Linked DNA regions of Homo sapiens. The protein of the gene in region 1 interacts with the protein of each later gene in a biochemical or structural test. Each region holds a gene or a part of one and is shown on either strand. Other genes may lie near its edges.

Region 1 (4,744 bases):
GCCACGCTCCACCTACAGTGCTCTGCACCCTGGCATCACCCCAGGCCATTCTGAGCGCTAGTACCTCTCTCTAGTTCAGTTCCAGGCCCACACTCACAACTCACCCAGGCCAGGCCCCACACCTAGCCCAATCTCAGGTTCTTACCTACATTTCAGCCTGAGCCCCGCCTGTATGTCAGCCCCGCCCCACTTGGCCCCGCCCCCACCAAAATACCACCTTCGCACCTAGGCATCACATCTTGGTACTTAGCCAGGCCCTATCCCAGGCTTTACTTACCCCAGGGTCCCTCTTCCCGGATCCCACCCCTCGACCCAGGTCGTGCCTGGTGTCCCAGCTCACTGTCAAAGTAGCTAGTGTCATCTTCCGACTCTAGGTGGGGGATGAACTCGGCCTTCTGCCTCAGCAGCCCTGTCCAGTCCAGGTCTCGAAAGAAACTGTGCTGCTTCACCTCAAAAGCGCCGCCTGGGACGGAAGGGATTCCAGCCACAGCTGATGGCCAACCCAGCAGCCCAGCCCCGCCCCCCATGTCTTCCGCCCCGGGGCCACAGCACAGGCTGGGCCTGGGGTTTTGGAGGCCTGCTCTCTATCAGTGGGCCCTCAGCTCCTCTGCATGGCGGACTTACCTGCCCCAAGCCTGACCAGAGGGTTGGTCTGCAGGAGGCTGGATATGAGGAGTTGGGCCTCCGTAGGTAGGGCCTCATCCCCCTCGGGCCACAGGATGTCATCTGCAAAACAAAACGGAACTTAGGGGCGGTTTTTGTTGTTGTTGTTGTTTGGACACAGGATCTCACTGTGTCACCCAGCTGGAGTGCAGTGGCACGATCATGGCTCACTGCAGCCTTGACCTCCTGAGTGCAAGCGATCCTCTGGGGGGTCGCTTTTGAAATCCCTGGAACCCTGAGCCTGTCCATCTCTCCGTGCACACCACACTCTGCCCCTGTACACTGCCAAGCCACGTACCACTGATGACCTGTCCAAATAGCTCCTCTGGTGTGTCTCCGAAGAAGGGCACACAGCCCACCAGGAACTCGTAGAGGATGATCCCCATAGCCCACCAGTCCACTGGCTTGCCGTAGCCTTGACGCAGGATGACCTCGGGCGCGATGTACTCTGGGGTCCCACACACCTGGGGGCAGGCTGTCAGCCCACGCCCCAGCCAGAGGAGGGCCCTCAAGGGAGAGCTGTGCCCCCCACCAGGCCCTGGGTTCCCGAGGTCCTGCAGGGTCACTCCACCCTCAGCGACCCCCATGCCCGCACACACACCTGTTTGTCCAGGAACTCTCGGGCGTCCTTCTCGATGTGGCCTTCATATAAGTTGGTGGTGAGGCTCATGAGCCCCATCTTGGAGAGGCCGAAATCTGTGAGCTTGATGTGACCCATGGAGGTGATAAGGAGGCTGTAGGCACAGGTGGGGATCTCAGGGATGAGGCCCGTCCATTCTGCCTCCTGGCCTCCCGAGGGACAGAGGGAGTGATGGGAAAGATCAAAGCTCACTTGTCAGGCTTGAGGTCGCGGTGCACGATGCCATAGTTGTGCAAATACTCCAGGGCTAGCACCGTCTCAGCAAAGTACATGCGGGCCATCTCTACGGGCAGCGCTCCAATATTCTTCAGCAGGGTGGCACAGTCGCCGCCTGCAGGCCAGGAAATGGGCCCGCATAAAAAGGGAGGCATTCCTCTCTCTGGACATGCACCATAGCACCAACTTCTCATGTTATGTTGTACCCGTTTTATAGATAAGGGAAACTGAGGCTCTGAGAGGGGCCTCCCTCCCTCCAGGTCCTCTACTGGGTTCTTCTTGTCCTCTTAGCCATCCTCCAAAGTTGGTGTCATCAGCTCATCTTATACACAAAGGGATGGAGACTCAAAGAAAGGATGGGTCATGCAGGCAGTTGTTGGTAGAGGTGAGGTTTAGTTGGGGAACAAAGGCTACCCACTTATCAACTGCATCTGGAAGCACAGCCCTCTATCTCCTGGTGTCTGAACCTTGGAGCTGGAAGCCTTAGATGCAGATTCTTGGTCTTCACTAGATTTTTTTTTTTTTTTTTTGAGACAGGGTCTTACTCCATTGCCCAGTCTAGAGTGCGGTGGCAAGATCACAGCTCACTGCATCCTCAACCTCCCAGCTCAAGCAATCCTCCTGCTTCAGCCTCCTGAGTAGCTGGGACTACAGATGTGAGCCACCATGCCCAGCTGATTTTTAAAAAATTGTTCAAGGCTGGGCATGGTAGCTCACGCCTGAAATCCCAGCACTTTGGGAAGCCAAGGCGGGTGGATCACTTGAGGTCAGGAGTTCGAGACCAGCCTGGTCAACATGGTGAAACCCCATCTCTGAAAAAAGAATACTAAAGTTAGCCTGGCTTGTTGGCAGACGGCTGTAATCCCAGCTACTCGGGAGGCTAAGGCAGAAGAATGGCTTGAACCTGGGAGGCAGAGGTTGCAGAGATCCAAGATCGCACCACTGCAGTCCAGCCTGGGTGACAGAGCAAGACTCCGTCTCAAAAAAAAAAAAAAAAAAGTTTTTTGTAGAAACGAGTTTCATTGTGTTGCCCAAGCTGGTCTCCAACTCTTGGGTTCAAAGGATCCTCCTGCCTCAGCTTCCCAAAGTGTTGGCCACTGCCTCTGCCCCTCTGCCAGATTTACTGTAATTGGCATTGGTATTTCAGTTTCTCAATATCTATTTCCTTTTTATCCTACAAAGGCTAGATTTCCTTCCATGTGCAGCAACCGGGGCAGTATGTAACCCAAGTTGCTCCAGTGAGTTAGCCCTTGGAATTTTCACTCTTTTCCTGTAAGAATTGCTAAGCTCATAGAATGTAAGCTGAGATCTGCTAGATGGCAACCTTGCTACATGAGGGCTTGTCTAGAAGGAAGCCCACATGTGGGAGTACAGAGCCAAGAGATGGAGAGTTTCCTGATGGAATGGTTTGAGCACCTACATCCAGCCATTCCTGAAGGTAATATTGGTTTTTCAATCACCAATGACCAAGAAAGCTAATGATTTCTTTCTTTTTTCTGTTCTCTTTTCTGCGAGATTTTGCTGGTTTCAGAAACTCTCTGAGGGTGGGGCCCAGGAATCTGCATTTGAGCACATCTATTGTGCACACAGACCCACCATAGAGATACTGATTTGGCCCCCTTCTCTCCTCCTCCTCTGCAATGAACCTGGACTAGAGCAGTCATCTACCTCCTAGTCTCCTGATTCTGCTCTCTCCACAAGAGCCAAATGGATTATCTTTTCTTAATTTTTTTCTTTTTCTCTTTTTTTTTTTTTTTTTTTTTTTGAGTCAGAGTCTGGCTCTGTCACCCAGGCTAGAGTGCAGTGGCTCCATCTCGGCTCACTGCAACCTCTGCCCACTCACCGCCCCCGGGTTCAAGAGATTCTTGTTCCTCAGCCTCCCGAGTAGCTGGGATGATAGGCGTGCACCGCCACTCCTGGCTAATTTTTGTAATTTTAGTAGAAACAGGGTTTCATTGGCCGGGCACAGTGGCTCACGCCTGTAATCCCAACACTTTGGGAAGCCGAGGCAGGCACATCACCTGAGGTTGGGAGTTCGAGACCAGCCTGGCTGACATGGAGAAACCCCATCTCTACTAAAAATACAAAAATAGCCAGGTGTGGTGGTGCATACCTATAATTCCAGCTACTCAAGAAGCTGAGGCAGGAGAATCGCTTGAACCCGGGAGGAGGAGGTTGCGGTGAGCCAAGATCACGTCATTGCACTCTAGCCTGGGCAACGAGTTTAGCCAGAGCGAAACTCTGTCTCAAAAAAAAAAAAAAAAAGGAAAAGAAAAAAACAACAACAACAGGGTTTCACCATGCTGGGTAGGTTGATCTTGGACTCTTGACCACAAGTGTTCTGCCTGCCTTGGTCTCCCACTGTAAGTGCTGGGATTACAGTCGTAAGCTACTATAATGGGCCTCCAAATGGATTTTCTTAAAACATAAATCTGATCATATCAAATCTTCTTAAAACCCTCCATTAGCTGGACATGGTGGTGCCTGCCTGTAGTTTCAGCTACTTTTGGAGGCTGAGGTGGGAGGATTGCTTGAGCCCAGGAGTTCAAGGCTGCAGTAAGCTGTGATCACACCACTGCACTCCAGCCTGGACAATGCACTAAAAATAAAACAAAACAAGGCTGGGCGCAGTGATTCACGCCTGTAATCCCCATACTTCGGGAGGCCGAGACTGATGGATCATTTAAGGCTAGGAATTCGAGACCAGCCTGGCCAACATGGTGAAAATCCGTCTCTACTAAAAGTACAAAAATTTGCCAGATGTGGTGGCACACGCCTGTAATCCTAGCTACTCGGGAGACTGAGGCAGGAGAATCACTTGAACCTTGGAGACGGAGGCTGCAGTAATCCGAGATCACCCCATTGCACTCTAGCCTGGGTGACAGCGTGAGTGAGACTCCATTTCAAAAAAAAAAAAAAAAAAAGGCAGGCACGGTGGCTCACTCCTGTAATCCCAGCACTTTGGGAGGCCGAGGCAGACAGATCATGAGGTGTGGAGTTTGAGACCAGCCTGACCAACATGATGAAACCCCATCTCTACTAAAAATACAGAAATTAGGTGGGCGTGGTGGCGGGCACCTGTAATCCCAGCTACTCAGGAGGTTGAGGCAGGAGAATCGCTTGAACCCGGGAGGCGGAGGTTGCAGTGAGCCGAGGATGCGCCACTGCACTCCAGCCTGGGCAACAGAACGAGACTCTATCTCAAAAAAGAAAGAAAGAAAGAAA
Region 2 (4,744 bases), on another chromosome or scaffold:
CCCATGGCAATCAGAACCCCTAAGCCAGTCGGTTTTGACCTTGAGCAGATTCTTTCACGTACTGTAATGTGTAGGGTAACCAACCATCCCAGTTTGCTTGGGATTTTCTCAATTTTAGCAAAGCCCCACATCCCTGGAAACTGTTCAGTAGTCTCAGGATGGTTTGGTTACTCTACCAATGGGCCATACCAAAGACTTCCCAGTACTTTCATTTCCTCATCTTTAAAAAGGCGGTAATAATAATGACCTATTTCACAGGGTTGTGAAGTGCTTGCCTGGCCCACAGCAGGTGCCCACATAAGTATTTACTATTATTGGCATCTTCTATGTGTGCCGTGACAAGAGAAATCTTGGGAAGCACTGTTCTAAGAGTTAGTCATGCAGGTGATACACTAGCACCATAGAGGCATTGTTGTAAACAAGGTGTGAATTGTCCAACATTCAGAGGTTAGTAGAGGAGAAGTCAAAATTGATAAACTACTATGAAATGGACAAGTACAGTCATGACATTATGAATCGCAGGGAGAGGGTGGGCGTGGAATAGGATCATAGAAAGCTGTTTCAGGAAACAGATCAACCCCCTGATTTATGAATGAGGAATTTGATCTAGGAAACAGGCCCAGAGAGGGTCAATGACTTGTCCAAAGCCACAAGTCAAGTTAGTGCAGTGCTGAGAATAGAACCTGTGTCTTTGAAATACGAAACCACTGTCTGTTCCCTATGCTATAATGTACAAGCAACAGAGAATGGGGGGGATTTTAGTAAGTCTTCCTGGCGATGGTGGTTTTAATAATTGGCAACAAAGGCTACAACTGATGCCAATCTATCTCTGGCTAGGGCCCTAGGACTGCCCTCCAGCCTGGGTTCATATGACTTGTTTCTCTGGACAGGTCTGCTCATGTCTGCTCTCACGGTTTTCATCCTGATTCTATACTTTGTGATTGACAACTTTGTGATAAATCGCAGACCATGGCTCCCTGAGTGTACTCCCATCTACATCCAGTACTTTGTCAAGTTCTTCATCATCGGCATCACTGTACTGGTGGTGGCTGTGCCAGAGGGGCTGCCTCTGGCTGTCACCATCTCACTGGCCTACTCTGTGAAGGTGAGACTAGAACAATCCTATCTCTTCCTTTAGGATAGAGATGGGAGAGAAGGGTACCATGTAACCTTTAGTGAAAAGATAAGCCATTCTATCATCTATAAACTTTGGCTGGTGCCTCACAAGAGCAGAAGTCCCTGGTATTATGGAAGGACCATCTCTGTCAGATGCATCAATGTTGAAATGACCCAGCAGAATCTTAAGAGAATGACAAAAATGGTATCTTGGATTTTTTTTTTTTTTTAAGACAGAGTCTCATTCTGTCACCCAGGCTGGAATGCAATGATGCAACCTCCGCCTCCCGGGTTCAAGTGATTCTCGTGCCTCAGCCTCCCAAGTAGCTGGGATTACAGGTGTGCACCACCATGCCCAGTTACTTTTTGTATCTTTTACAGAGACAGGGTTTCACCATGTTGGCCAGGCTGGTCTTGAACTTCTGACCTCAGGTGATCTGCCCGTCTCAGCCTCCCGAAGTACTGAAATTACAGGCATGAATCACTGCACCCAGTCAGTATCTTGGATTTTTGTGTGGGACTGGAAGATGAAATGTGGAGAGATGTTGGCTAGGAAATGGCCTTTGACCTAGATTTAGGAGAGTCCAGTTAGTCCCCCTCTCAAGTCTTTTCTCTTCTCCTTTGTAGAAAATGATGAAAGACAATAACCTAGTACGGCACTTGGATGCTTGTGAGACCATGGGCAACGCCACCGCCATCTGCTCTGATAAGACAGGCACGTTGACCATGAACCGCATGACTGTGGTACAAGCTTATATTGGGGGCATCCATTACCGTCAAATCCCAAGCCCTGATGTCTTCCTGCCCAAAGTCCTGGACCTCATTGTCAATGGCATTTCTATCAACAGTGCTTATACCTCCAAGATTCTGGTAAGCATTTCCTTTGCGTAGACACTTAGAGTGGGTGGTTGGAAGGGAACATCCATTTTCTCTGAAATGAACCCCCTTATTGTTTACACTGCCTAAATTGCCATCCCACATCCCATTTCTCACGCTGGAGTGAACATGTTTGGGTGAGACTACAGAAAAATCCCTGGGAGTCAATGGAGGGTTGGAGGTAAGGGCCTGTAAGAATCTATGGCCAGGAAATACCCTCCCAATTAGCATGTAAAAGCAATGTCTCTAAGGAGGGAAAGTAGAAAGTAACCCAAAGTAGAATTGGGCTTATCAGAAGTAAATTACTCACTTTCTAGAAACAAGCATAGTGTATTAGAATAAGACCCACACAAGGCGAGACACCAGCACTACCACTAGAGCAAACTACAAAATCCCTAAGCCCTGGATGGCACAAGGATCACGGTTACCACTGACCCCTCTCTGCCTACCCTTGAAAAACAACAGGCTAGGCATAGTGGCTCACTTCTGTAATCCCAGCACTTTGGGAAGCCAAAATGGTAAGATCGCTTGAGCCCAGGAGTTCGAGACCAGCCTGAGCAATATTGTGAGACCTCATCTCTACAAAAATAAACAAAATTAGCCAGGCATGGTTGCGCACCTGTAGTCCCAGCTACTCCAGAAGCTGAGGTGGGAGGATCACTTGAGCCTAAGAGGTCAAGTCTGCAGTGAGCTGAGATCACACCACTGCAGTCAAGCCTGGGCAACAGAGCAAGGTGCTATGTCAAAAAGAAAAAGAAAAAAGATGCCAGGTGCTGTGGCTCATGCCTGTAATCCCAACATTTTGGGAGGTTGAGGTGGGCAGATCACCTGAGGTCAGGAGTTCAAGACCAGCCTGGCCAACATGGTGAAACCCGGTCTCTACTAAAAATACAAAAATTAGCTAGGCATGGTGGCAGGTACCTGTAGTCCCTGCTACTCAGGAGGCTGAGGCAGAAGAATCACTTGAACCTGGGAGGTGGAGGTTGCAGTGAGCCAAGGTCGTGCCACTGCACTCCAGGCTGGGCAACAGAGCGAGACTCCATCTCCAAAAAAGAAAAAAAAAAATGTTATTTCCCCTATGAGCTCCAGGTATATAATGTGAAGGCTTTGTAAATGAGTTCTTTCTCCCTAAGTTCTCTGCCTTGTCAAGGCATCTTACTCAATAGTGCTGTGTATATTTCTTCTCCCAGCCTCCAGAGAAGGAGGGAGGCCTGCCTCGGCAGGTGGGCAACAAGACCGAGTGTGCTCTGCTAGGCTTTGTCACAGATCTGAAGCAGGATTATCAGGCTGTGCGTAATGAAGTGCCCGAGGAGAAGCTCTACAAGGTGTACACCTTTAACTCAGTGCGCAAGTCAATGAGCACCGTCATCAGGAATCCCAACGGTGGCTTCCGTATGTACAGCAAGGGCGCCTCTGAGATCATCTTGCGCAAGTGAGCACCCCCGACCACTCTGCTTCCCTTCAAGATCCTCTCCTCAGGAAGGCATGGGTGCACACCCCACACTGAACCCATGTGAATGAGGGAGCCCTCCAGCCAGGTGGTGACATAATAACTAATATCCAAGCGTCTACTCAGGCCACGCATGTTTTTTAAGTGCTTAAGGTGGCTTGTTGTATTTAATCCTCACAACTCAGTAAGGTGGGTACTATGATTATCCCTGTTTTACAGATGAGAAAACAGAGATATAAGGAAGTTAAGTATCTCACTCAAGGTGATACAGCTAATAGTGGCACAGCCAGGATTCAGACCTGGACGATCCTAAGTTTCCATTTCCTAATCTGAAAACAGAGATAGCCATACTCAGCTCCTAAAAGTACTACCCCCTCACTGTAACTAAATGATTCAATGTATGTAAAATGCCTTATACATAACAAGTACTAGAAACGTTTGTTCTGTGTTCTCTTTTCCTTCTCTTTCCTTCCCATTCCCATTTCTGATTACAGGGAATTTACATAACTTTAAAAGTGACTATTCGGCCAGGCGCAGTGGCTCACGCCTGTAATCCCAGCACTTTGGGAGGCCGAGGCAGGCAGAACACGAGGTCAGGAGTTCGAAACCAGCCCGACCAACATGGTGAAACCCTGTCTCTACTAAAAAAAAATACAAAAATTAGCCAGGCATGGTGGTGCGTGCCTGTAATCCCAGCTACTCAGGAGGCTGAGGCAGGAGAATCGCTTGAACCCAGAAGGCAGAGGTTGCAGTGAGCTGAGATCGCACCACTGCACTCCAGCCTGGGTGACAGAGTGAGACTCCATTACAAAAAAAAAAAAGTGACTATTAATAAATTACCCATAGTTCATCAAAAGTTGGCACTATACCTAAGTAGGGCTGAATTAACCAGTGCTCCAACATGGCTTTAGCCACCTTCTTTTAATCAGCACATTCTTGTATAGGAAACCTCCCCCAAACCACCAGCACCACACAGTGAGCACTATTCTAAATACTCGGATTGAAAAAGTCTCTCTGCCTTCAAGAAGTTCAAAAGAGCAGGTGATTCACAAATGACTTGCATTGCATTCACATATGGGTAAGAACAGATGACATGGGAGAATCCCACTCTCTATATATCTAGACCTTAACTCCATCCACAGCCCACCTACCTTGGAAAGAGGGACTCAGCTGGGTGATGAATGAAGGAAATGTTTGGCCACACTTGGAGCAATGTCTTTAGGAATAATACAGAGTTGCCAAAATACCTGTCAATGATTGTAGAAACGTATTGAGTGGGAAGGGAGACACCGCGTTCTTACT
Region 3 (4,744 bases), on another chromosome or scaffold:
TGTTGAAATTCCAACCCCCAAGGTGATGGTATTAGGAGGTGGAGCCTTTGAGAGGTGATTAGATCATGAGGGTAGAGCCCTCATGAATGGCATTAGCACCCTTATAAAAACAGGCCTGAGACCTCTCCCTCCTTCTACCGTGCAAGGACAGCTGAAAGGCACCATCTATGAACCAGAATCGGGGCCCTCACCAGACACCAAATCTGTTGGTGCCCTGATCTTGGATTTCCCGGCCTCTAGAACTGTGAGAAATAAATTTCTGTTGTTTATAAGCCACCCAGTTCACAACATTTTGTTACAGCAGAACAAACAGACTAAGACAGAGACAAATACCAATGTAGGAGTGAGGGTGTTACAATAAAGTGAAAACCAAAAATAGGCCCCATAACAGAAAACACTTCTCCCAGCATAGCAGGTTGTAAGTGCTGGAGACTGCTTAGCTTATCGGCATGTAAGAAATGCAAAAATAAATCCTTTCCAATAGGAAAGGTATCCTCAACAAAGGCCTCATCACAGGACAATCTCAGGAATAAGAGCACTGCTTGCACCTCCTTGCCGCAGACTTGCCTGTCGCCCCTGCCTTTGGTTATGTTCACCAGCTTCTCTATGCCTCCTGAGTCGGCCAGGGCTTTTGCGTTCTCCATGTTTTTGCTGGTGACCTCGTGCAGAGCACAGCAGATGGCTGCCATGGTCTCATCAGACAAGACACTGGGGCCATTGCCGCCGGGGAGCCGGTTGACCAGGTCTCGCATGGCGTATTTGCCTGCCAACGGCAAAAGAGTAAATTCTACTTCCAGAAGGTACTAGGTTTTTGTTATTGTTGTTCAGATTCTGGTGGCATGCAATCTCTTAAAAATAAAACCCCCAAAGAGACAATAATAGGGGAAAAAATCAAAACCCATGGCAAAGAAGAAAAGGACAAATGTCATTATAAGGGGAAAGCTAACATTTATTGCAACGTCACTTGCAGAAATGATTCATTTATAAAACATTACTGTCAATTGCTGAAAGCAAATGTAAATCAATGCGTAAAATTGGGTAGACAAATCAAGTTACTTTCGTTCGAGTATTTTCAGTAACATTGAGTAATGAAGGAATTATAATAGTAAATTTTATTCTCAATGGAATTCCTATGCATCACAAATACCTCAATTTCCTCTTAGAGCTTTTTAAAACTTACCTTTGAATCTGGACCAAGTCAGGCTGCCAAACAATACTTTTCGTTAGATCTTTCTGGATCTTAATGTATGAACTGGGTACAGTTACACATTTTTGTGTATAGAGCTGAGGTGTACAGCAACTCATCTGACAACGGTGGCAACATGTTAGTTTCTTTAAAAGATGACACAAGTAAAAGTTCTGGTATTAAAATTATAGGTATGTTATCTCCCAGGAATAATGCAATAATAATGAAATTCTTGCTAAGACAAGGCAAGGGGAGTTTCACAGTTATTGAGGTATTTCTTTATAGATACTGAATTTTTCTTATTCCTCTCCAAAAAGAGATTACCTCTAGCTTTTTCAACTTCGATTACCAACTGACAAACTGTAAGTGCACTACAAACAAAAGAAATGAACTAAAGTGCAAGTAAACATCTTCTTAGTTCTCCCCTATGCTAATAATTGAGTGGATGTGCAATCGCTTTTTATAAAGGCCTGTTTATTTACAGTGGTAAGCAGAAGAAGACAGGTCTCAGCTACATGCTGTGTGATGTACAGCACGTCAGAGGGAAGGCTCTGGCTTGCTCACGACAAACACTGCTATGAAGAGTGGAAAAACAGTGCTGACACTGTAAGGCCACAAGATAAATGTGGTTTTCAGAGCAGATGATAAGTTAGCTCTGGTGATTTTGAATACTCATGAATGACCAAAAGGCCCATGACATGTAATTTGTCATTTTGCTAAGGCATAACTTTAAATTGCACTCCTGGGGGTTAGGCCGAGGCAGCTCACTCTGCCTATGAATGAGTGAGCCTGGCGGTCCCCTCAGAACTTGCAGCTCCAGACAGCAGGGTGGGTCCCACTCAGTTGAGTATGTAGTAACTTTTATGAAGTGATAAAACTTTGCTTCTTTGTGAAAAATGGCTCTGAAAAGAAAGTCCTTTGCTAGTGCTGATGATGAATGTGAAAAAAGAGGGAAGAGGTCAGAGAAGGGGAAGGTTCCTAGGAACTGAAGTACTGGGTAAATTAGAGCCAAATACTGAATCCAAGAGTGAGGCAGATCTCACAGGAAGACGGGAATAGGGAAACAAAAAAACAGACTGATGGAACAGTTCAAGAGTGCTCCAGCCAGGTTAAAAAAAAAAAAAAAAAGCTCATCACTGGAGAGGCAGAAGGCCAGTGGAAGTTAAAAAGGGTTATTCACAGAAAACACAGAAATGCACTGAGAGGAAGCCAAGACTTGGAACACACATTCCTCTTGCCAAAGGTCTTAGCACTTCACAGTACCAGCTCAAGGACTCCTGTCTACCTGTGTCTTTGCGTTGTGAAATATGACAGGCCACAGGATATACGTGTCAACCATTTATTTTTTAGCATTAAAAATGCCCAAATTATACATGCTTCTTATAAGAAATCCAAACAATACAGACGTAAGAAAAATAACTTTAAAGAATATCTCTCTTTAGGGACCTGAAGGATTTCTGTAAAGGAAGTGTGGGAACTGAGAGATATGGCACATCTACAAGAATCAGGCATGAGCTGGACCATGAACAGGGTGAGGAGGAACTTCCTTTCCTCTCCGTAGGGGGATGATTTGGCTTAAAGGAATGGTGTGTTAAGAGCAGGTTAATCTGGGCAACAATTCAAAATAGCAATTCTGTCAGGCACTGTGTGAAGGGCTTCCATTGTAAGTCATCACGTTTAATCCTTACAGCAATTCTTTATGGTAAACATCATCGCCCTTGTTTCTCTCTCCTTCTCTCATGGCAGGTGTATTTTAAGTTTACTATAGATTCACATGAATCCACATAAGATCTTGTCCCATTTCCCCTCCTTCTCCCCTGACCTGTCACCAGCTGTGGGACTTGGCATGGAGCTCTCTCATTTCCTCTTTACAGCAAACCCAGTTAGGACAGCAGGCATCAACAGCTCCCCTTCAGAGATGAGGAGTTGCCTTTCATTTCCAATCTAGATAGAATTACGGAGCCTGAACGGGGTTATATAGGATACCCCAGGTTGCATGGCCAGTGAGCAGCACATCCTGGGAACGAAGCTCAGGTTTATGGGGGTCCCTGATGTCTTCTTTAGCCCGCATCCTGCCTAGGATGTGGCAATGCCGCAGAGGCAAGCAAGCTGCCTGGGGTGCGGAGCGTACAGAGGTCCTCACTGTTTGGTTTGTGCATGTGCCAACCCTACCTTGTACAAACCTGAGAGTAAAGGCCTCCTAAAATGTTGTGCCTTTGGCGCCTTGCTTAGCTCACCCTAGTCCTGCCCCTGCCCAGGGTGGAAATGATGTTGGGACAGTGGTTCTTCTCTGGGATAAAGATTTATACCAATGTGAGAGGGGAAAGCTACAAAACATTCATGTGATTTTTTATTTAGAGTATGGTAGTGTTGGTGAATTAGCAGGTAGCAGTCCAAAAATTGGAAAGGGAGATTAAGATTTTTTGTTGCTCAGGATATAGAGAACTCTCTTAGAAATGAGAGACATTAACCCTACTAGTGTTGTAAGGTACAACTAAAATTGCTGGCCTTTCTGAAAATTTACCTTCCCTAATCAATGACTAATTAATGAGCTTGCCTCCTGCTGAAAAAGAATGGTCACAAAACAGGAGTACTCAAATATGCCAAGAAACTGGAGACTAGGGCTCAGCTGTTAATGATTTTACAAGCCATATATTTATTAATCAAAAGAAGAGTTTCATGAATTTTGTAGCTGCTCTCACATTTACAGCTCATCTTGTCACCAGAACATACCTATGAGCTCCTTGTTGCGAACATCTAGTGCCATATTCCTCAAGGCTGTTGCCACGGAAGAAACAACTCTATCGTTATCCATTCTCAGAAGCTCCACAAGGATGGGGAGCCCCTTTTCTTTTCGGACGGCCGCCCGGATATATGCTGCAAACTAGTGAGAAAAATAAGGCAGGAAGTAACATAAAACAGAGTTCCAGTCTCATATGTTACTGTCACCTAAAAAAGATGTTTCCAAAAGATGAACTAATAGATTAAATGGTTTCTTTCCAATTGAAGATCAAATCTGTGGTGTCAGTGAAGAGAAAACCAAAGTTGGGGAGAAAGATAGGCTGGAATGACTGATTTAAAAAGAAATCCCAAAGCCTGAAAATCTCAAACCACCATCTGCCAGATATTTTTGTGCAGAAAAGAGAAGGCAGTGATTACTTTCTATCTCAGATACATAAACATGATTAAGGAAGGATCGTGTGTTTTCTTTGCAGTTGGTCCCCTGCCAAACCCAGAGGCTATAAATAGGATGGCAGAGACAGTAACCCATCAGCACACATGAAAGGAGAACCTGTCTCCATCAAGTCATTTTTTTTCTATATTCCCTGCAACAATATTTCGAGTTCAGAAACCTGTCAAAGAGATTAGTTGGAAAAATCCCTTGCCTCAGAAGAAAGGGAAATCTCCAGAAACATCCAGCATCATAATTCATACAGCCTGGTGAAAAAGTAAGTATATTTGTGTGCAAAATGCATTCTCACTCAAGATTAGTTAGCTGCTGATGCTGTTTTTTAAAAATCCATAGTCAAGAAATTTTTCTGTGACTATGAAGCAACT
Region 4 (4,744 bases), on another chromosome or scaffold:
TTGGCATTGACATCTTAGTAGAGTGGAAAGAATACACATGTCCTTTGGTGTCAGATAAATCTTGTCCTAAATCCCAGCTCCTCTATTAACTTGAAGGGCAAGTCAACTGAGCATCTGCCTGAGCCTCAGTTTCCTCAGCACTAGAATGGGTACAAGAATGCCTGCCTTAGCAATTGGCTTGACATATGCTTGCAAAGTGCCTGGTCATAGGTGGTGCTCAGAACAGTTGGTTCCTGTGAACACATAAAGACCCTTAAGCCAGGTGGGAGTCAGGAGGGAGGGAAGGAACAGGCTATGGGCCAGATTTGACCCTGGAGCTGTAAGTTTGCTGATCCCTGGTCTAGCATAATAAATCACTGATAAATTTGCCTTAAATATAAAGAGTCAAAGCCTTGGCCAGTTGTGGTGGTTCATGCCTGTAATCCCAGGAGTCTGAGGCCAGCCTAGGCAGCATTTTGAGACTCCAACTATACAAAAATATTTTAAAATTTTTAAAAAATTGGCCGAGTGTGGTGATGCATGCCTGTAGTCCTATCTACTCAGAAGGTTGAACCCAGGAGGTCGAACTGTGCTGCTGTATTCCAGCCTGGGTGACAGAGGAAGACCCTGTCTCTAAAAAATAAAATAAAATATCTCGGACACTAATTTGCTCTAAAGGCTGAGAATACCGATACTTTCCCACTGGACCCCACAGGTAGGTCATATTTCCCAGCTTCCCTTGAAGCTAGAGAGGCCACGTGTCTGAGTCCTGGTCAGTGATGTTGGGGAAGTGAATGTGGAACTGCTAAGCCTGGAGCCGGAGCAACCTTCCTCCTGCAGTCCCCGGAGGATGGTGGAACTCTTACACGGAAGGATATGCGTTCCTGGAGGCATGCGAGGCAGGCAGGAGCCCCACAGCTCCCCTCCACACCAATTCATCTGCACAGGAATATGGGATTGCGAATAAGAAATAAGCTTTATTGTGTTACACAACTGAGGCTTGGGAGACTGCTTGTTGCAGCTCTTCCTGTTAGGCTGCTCTGACTCATACAGCATCTTAGTGTGCTTCCTGGCAGGGCACAGGTCACGAGGCTGTGGGCACCTGACAAAATGGTATGGAGGCTGGTGCCTCTAAGAGCATCCTCCCCTAGGTCTGGTACACAAGGTCTCTGTGCCTCCACCCCATGTCTCCGCCTATAGAGGCTTTTCCCTCTCTTAGCCCCCGGGGCTCCCACTCTCCAGGCAGTCACCCTGGGACATGTGCCACAGCTGTCCTCCCCTTGGGCTCTTGTGTGCGCTGTTTCCTTTCCTTTCCTCAAAATACCTGTCTTTCCTCGGCCGGGCACGGTGGCTCACACCTGTAATCCCAGCACTTTGGGAGGCCAAGGTGGGCAGATCACGAGGTCAGGAGATCGAGACCATCCTGGCTAACACGGTGAAACCCCGTCTCTACTAAAAAAAAAAAAAATACAAAAACGATTAGCCAGGCATGGTGGCGGCTGCCTGTAGTCCCAGCTACCGGGGAGGTTGAGGCAGGAGAATGGCGTGAACCCGGGAGGCGGAGCTTGCAGTAAGCTGAGATCGCACCACTGCACTCCAGCCTGGGCGACAGTTAGAGACTCTGTCTCAAAACAACAACAACAACAACAACAACAAAAAACTTGTCTTTTCTCATGAGGCTGTTCCGTTTTGTACCTTTACACACACCAATTCCAGACACACCTTCCCCACTGCTGCCTCTACCCAGGGCTGGGCTTGGCTTCCTTTATCTGTCTAGCTGCCTTCCCTCTACTCATCTTGTGCTCACTGCCTCATCAGACTCTGAGGTGCTGGAGGGCCGGCGCTCTGCCCTCCTAGCCTAACGCAGTGTTTGGCAAATATTTGTGATTAAATTAATGAATGAAAGAGAAAGGGATTCCTTGGCACGTGTAATGCTTTTTATGACCATGGCTAGGCCAACCCTGGAATTGGCTTTCAGAGATTAACCCAGGCCCTCTACCGATGGTGTTGCTTCCTGTTGACTCCTAACGCCGATTCCTTGCCTCATCCTCCGCCTTCATCATCTTCTGCCTTGCATCCATGAGGTGTGATCAGTCACAGGGTGAACAATCATCGGCGGCCATGGCCGCCCGCAGACCTCTGGAGCAGGAGGAAAACAGGCCTCCACTTTACTTGACTCCTATCTGCTCATGGGGTCTGTGTCCGCAGAATCCTAATGTAGGGGGTGTGACCTGGAACATGAAAGGGACAGGAAGGAATAGAACTGCTGGCTCTTTGGGGCCATAATTTTAATGTGCTGACGTCCATTGTGCAGAAGAGACTTTTCCCAGCTGTCCTGGCACCACACAGTAGTCTGTGTCATCAATCGAGCCTGCTCCAGGGCAGCTGGGCACAGGTGCAAGGCCCGGTGCAGGGAGGAGCACTGAAGGGCCTGGGCTGAGCAGCTCCCAGGGTGCAGCGCTGTCCCCTTCATGGCTATGGAGTGGGGAGCAAACACCACCTACCTTCCAAAACAAACTAAAACCTTTCCAACATTCTGCCTCGGTTTTTTCCCCACCCCCTCTTAAATCATAACCAAGAAAGGACATGTATTTATATTCTGTGAGGAAAAAGCAAAGTTTTAATGGTCTTTGGTGTGGCTTTTTAAAATGATAAATGACTGTTGAGCTTGTCAAATCATGGCTAATACTGTTTTATCTGGGTGAGATCAGTAACAGCTTTTTAAGGGTTACCATGCTGTTATTTCTCTTCGTGTTGGTAATAAAGCAAAATAACTCTGTGGCTGGTACTTGTGTGATAATAGAGAAAATTAGTGAGGGGTGAAGTTTAGGGGCTTAGAAGAAGGTGAATAAATAAATGTAATTTAAACAATTCTGGGGCAGGCATCCATCCCACCTTCCTTAACATCTGCTCTAGATTCTAGTGCCCTGTAGAGTCCAAGGAGGGGAGCTGTCCTTGACTGTGAGCATAGTGGAAACCACTGGATGGAGGAAGGGTAGGCACAAGCCTGGACCTGAGAAACAAAGGCACCTATTCTGCTTTCAAATTCAGTCCTGGGAGAGCAGGTGACCTCTGTCATAGGACTGCTATAGGGCACCAGCAGTGGAGATAACCAAGTGATAAGCAAGTCTTTGGCTTTCCATTAACAGAGACCACTGGTCCCAACATGGAAAAGCGTCCCAGAAGCCTTTCCCAGTTGCTGCGTCCACCTAGCATACACACAGGATGGCTCTGATTTCATGACACTTCTGCCAACGGGAAGCTTTGGGCAATCGACAGCACAAAATGAAAGACAACATGTGTGCTTCCAGGCTAGTGGGGAGGGACGCCGTAAGCTGATGCTTCTGAGACAGAAACCGAAGGGACAAGGTGCCAGGAGCTCCTATACTAAAAACTGTTTGTAGCACATTTATGGGGATTAAGTGGTTGTGGTGAAAACAGCCTGCACGTTTAATATTGATGACGTTTTAAAAAGCAATGCACTGCAAATATCTGTTGAGAAATGAATGCCCTTTAATTGTTCACAAATGAGTATCTTAAAGAAAATACCCATAGAGAAGTCACCTGGATAGTTAAAAACATTAACTACCCAGGGTAGAGGAGAAAATTAGATTGAAACTAATTCAGATTAATTTGGCATCAACTTTAAAGAAATCAAATAAATAAATGTCCAAGTTATTAGAGTGTAAGAAAGTGTTCCAGGAACCTTTTCCACAGAGGTTCTTGATCTTCCTGTGTGGCAGTTAGTGGGAAATTATGTGACAAATTTATCACATCTCTTGTCAGCTCCTAGCATCCTTGTAAGATTGCTACAATTCCCTATCCAGTCTGTATCTAATAGAGCATACATAATGATTTTTATTTTAATTCCAACCAAGTTGAATACATTATAAAACCAAATAAAATTGTCTATTTATCAACTCCAGAGATCATTAGATAATAACAATTTATTGTTGCAGAGTTTTGTGAAAAAATTATCAAATTTTAGATCCAAACTGGTTTAGTGTAGTGTATTGCTAAGGCAAATAGGTGGCTAAGAACGTAGACTTCCTAGTTTTGTGGATGCAAGCAAATGGCTGAATTTGAGGGTTTTTGAGCTCTGGACTAGCCCAGTCCTGAGATTTCCTGGTTTTAGTGGGGAGACTTAGGTAAATAAGGCATTCAAAGTGCTTGTCCTGTTGTCTGAGATATGTAAGTAGCTGGTGATGATCATAGATGCTGACAACAGATACTGAGAAAGTTGACTCAGAGAGGCAGCTTGGGCCTGGAAATTCAGGCAAATGGCAAGCCCCTAGGGCTGAGGGAAGCGTGCTTTAGGCAGGGCACCAAGATTCCAATACTAAGGACGTGGCCAGGGTCCACTCTCTGGAGCTGGTATAAACTGGAGCTTAGTAATGAAAACTAGGGAAAGGCCCAGGGTAGAGGTCGGAGCTACCAGATTTGGCAAGATTTCTCAAGCCCCCGTGGATTCAGTTGTGATATAGAGTGAACAATCCCCCCATCCGGGTGGCTCTGGGGACAAATGAGAAACATGCAGGAACCGCTGAGCATGTGGAAGGTCCTGGGCACATGCCAGTTCCCTCCTTCTTGCTCTTTGTCACTAACTGTGGTGCCCAAGTCCTCCCCTTGCCTGGTCTAGTCTGGGGTTGCTGGATGTGGACTCACTCAGAACCCCACACTTCTTTCCAATTGCAGTCTGAGCAGAGGGACGCTGGGACAGAGCCCTGGACTTTCCTAAAACCGGGAAATCCCAGGACAGGACTAG

What was found. The genes of interacting proteins can lie anywhere in the genome.
Region 2: the proteins of MAST1 (region 1) and ATP2B4 interact in a test that uses a peptide from one of them, tested with the Homo sapiens proteins (one large-scale study listed by IntAct).
Region 3: the proteins of MAST1 (region 1) and PKP4 interact in a test that uses a peptide from one of them, tested with the Homo sapiens proteins (one large-scale study listed by IntAct).
Region 4: the proteins of MAST1 (region 1) and SLC22A3 interact in a test that uses a peptide from one of them, tested with the Homo sapiens proteins (one large-scale study listed by IntAct).

Annotation. Positions count from the first base shown.
Region 1 is NC_000019.10:12,861,699-12,866,442, reverse strand, and holds part of MAST1 (microtubule-associated serine/threonine-protein kinase 1), read right to left. Parts: intron 1,635-4,744; coding exon 1,496-1,634; intron 1,398-1,495; coding exon 1,265-1,397; intron 1,128-1,264; coding exon 962-1,127; intron 727-961; coding exon 625-726; intron 464-624; coding exon 341-463; intron 1-340. UniProt on the Homo sapiens protein: Microtubule-associated protein essential for correct brain development. Appears to link the dystrophin/utrophin network with microtubule filaments via the syntrophins. Phosphorylation of DMD or UTRN may modulate their affinities for associated proteins.
Region 2 is NC_000001.11:203,706,119-203,710,862, forward strand, and holds part of ATP2B4 (plasma membrane calcium-transporting ATPase 4), read left to right. Parts: intron 1-890; coding exon 891-1,105; intron 1,106-1,743; coding exon 1,744-1,986; intron 1,987-3,182; coding exon 3,183-3,424; intron 3,425-4,744. UniProt on the Homo sapiens protein: Calcium/calmodulin-regulated and magnesium-dependent enzyme that catalyzes the hydrolysis of ATP coupled with the transport of calcium out of the cell. By regulating sperm cell calcium homeostasis, may play a role in sperm motility.
Region 3 is NC_000002.12:158,665,739-158,670,482, reverse strand, and holds part of PKP4 (plakophilin-4), read right to left. Parts: intron 4,636-4,744; exon of another isoform or gene 4,402-4,635; intron 4,071-4,401; coding exon 3,920-4,070; coding exon of another isoform or gene 3,906-3,919; exon of another isoform or gene 3,819-3,905; intron 764-3,818; coding exon 568-763; intron 1-567. UniProt on the Homo sapiens protein: Plays a role as a regulator of Rho activity during cytokinesis. May play a role in junctional plaques.
Region 4 is NC_000006.12:160,354,165-160,358,908, forward strand, and holds part of SLC22A3 (solute carrier family 22 member 3), read left to right. Parts: intron 1-4,744.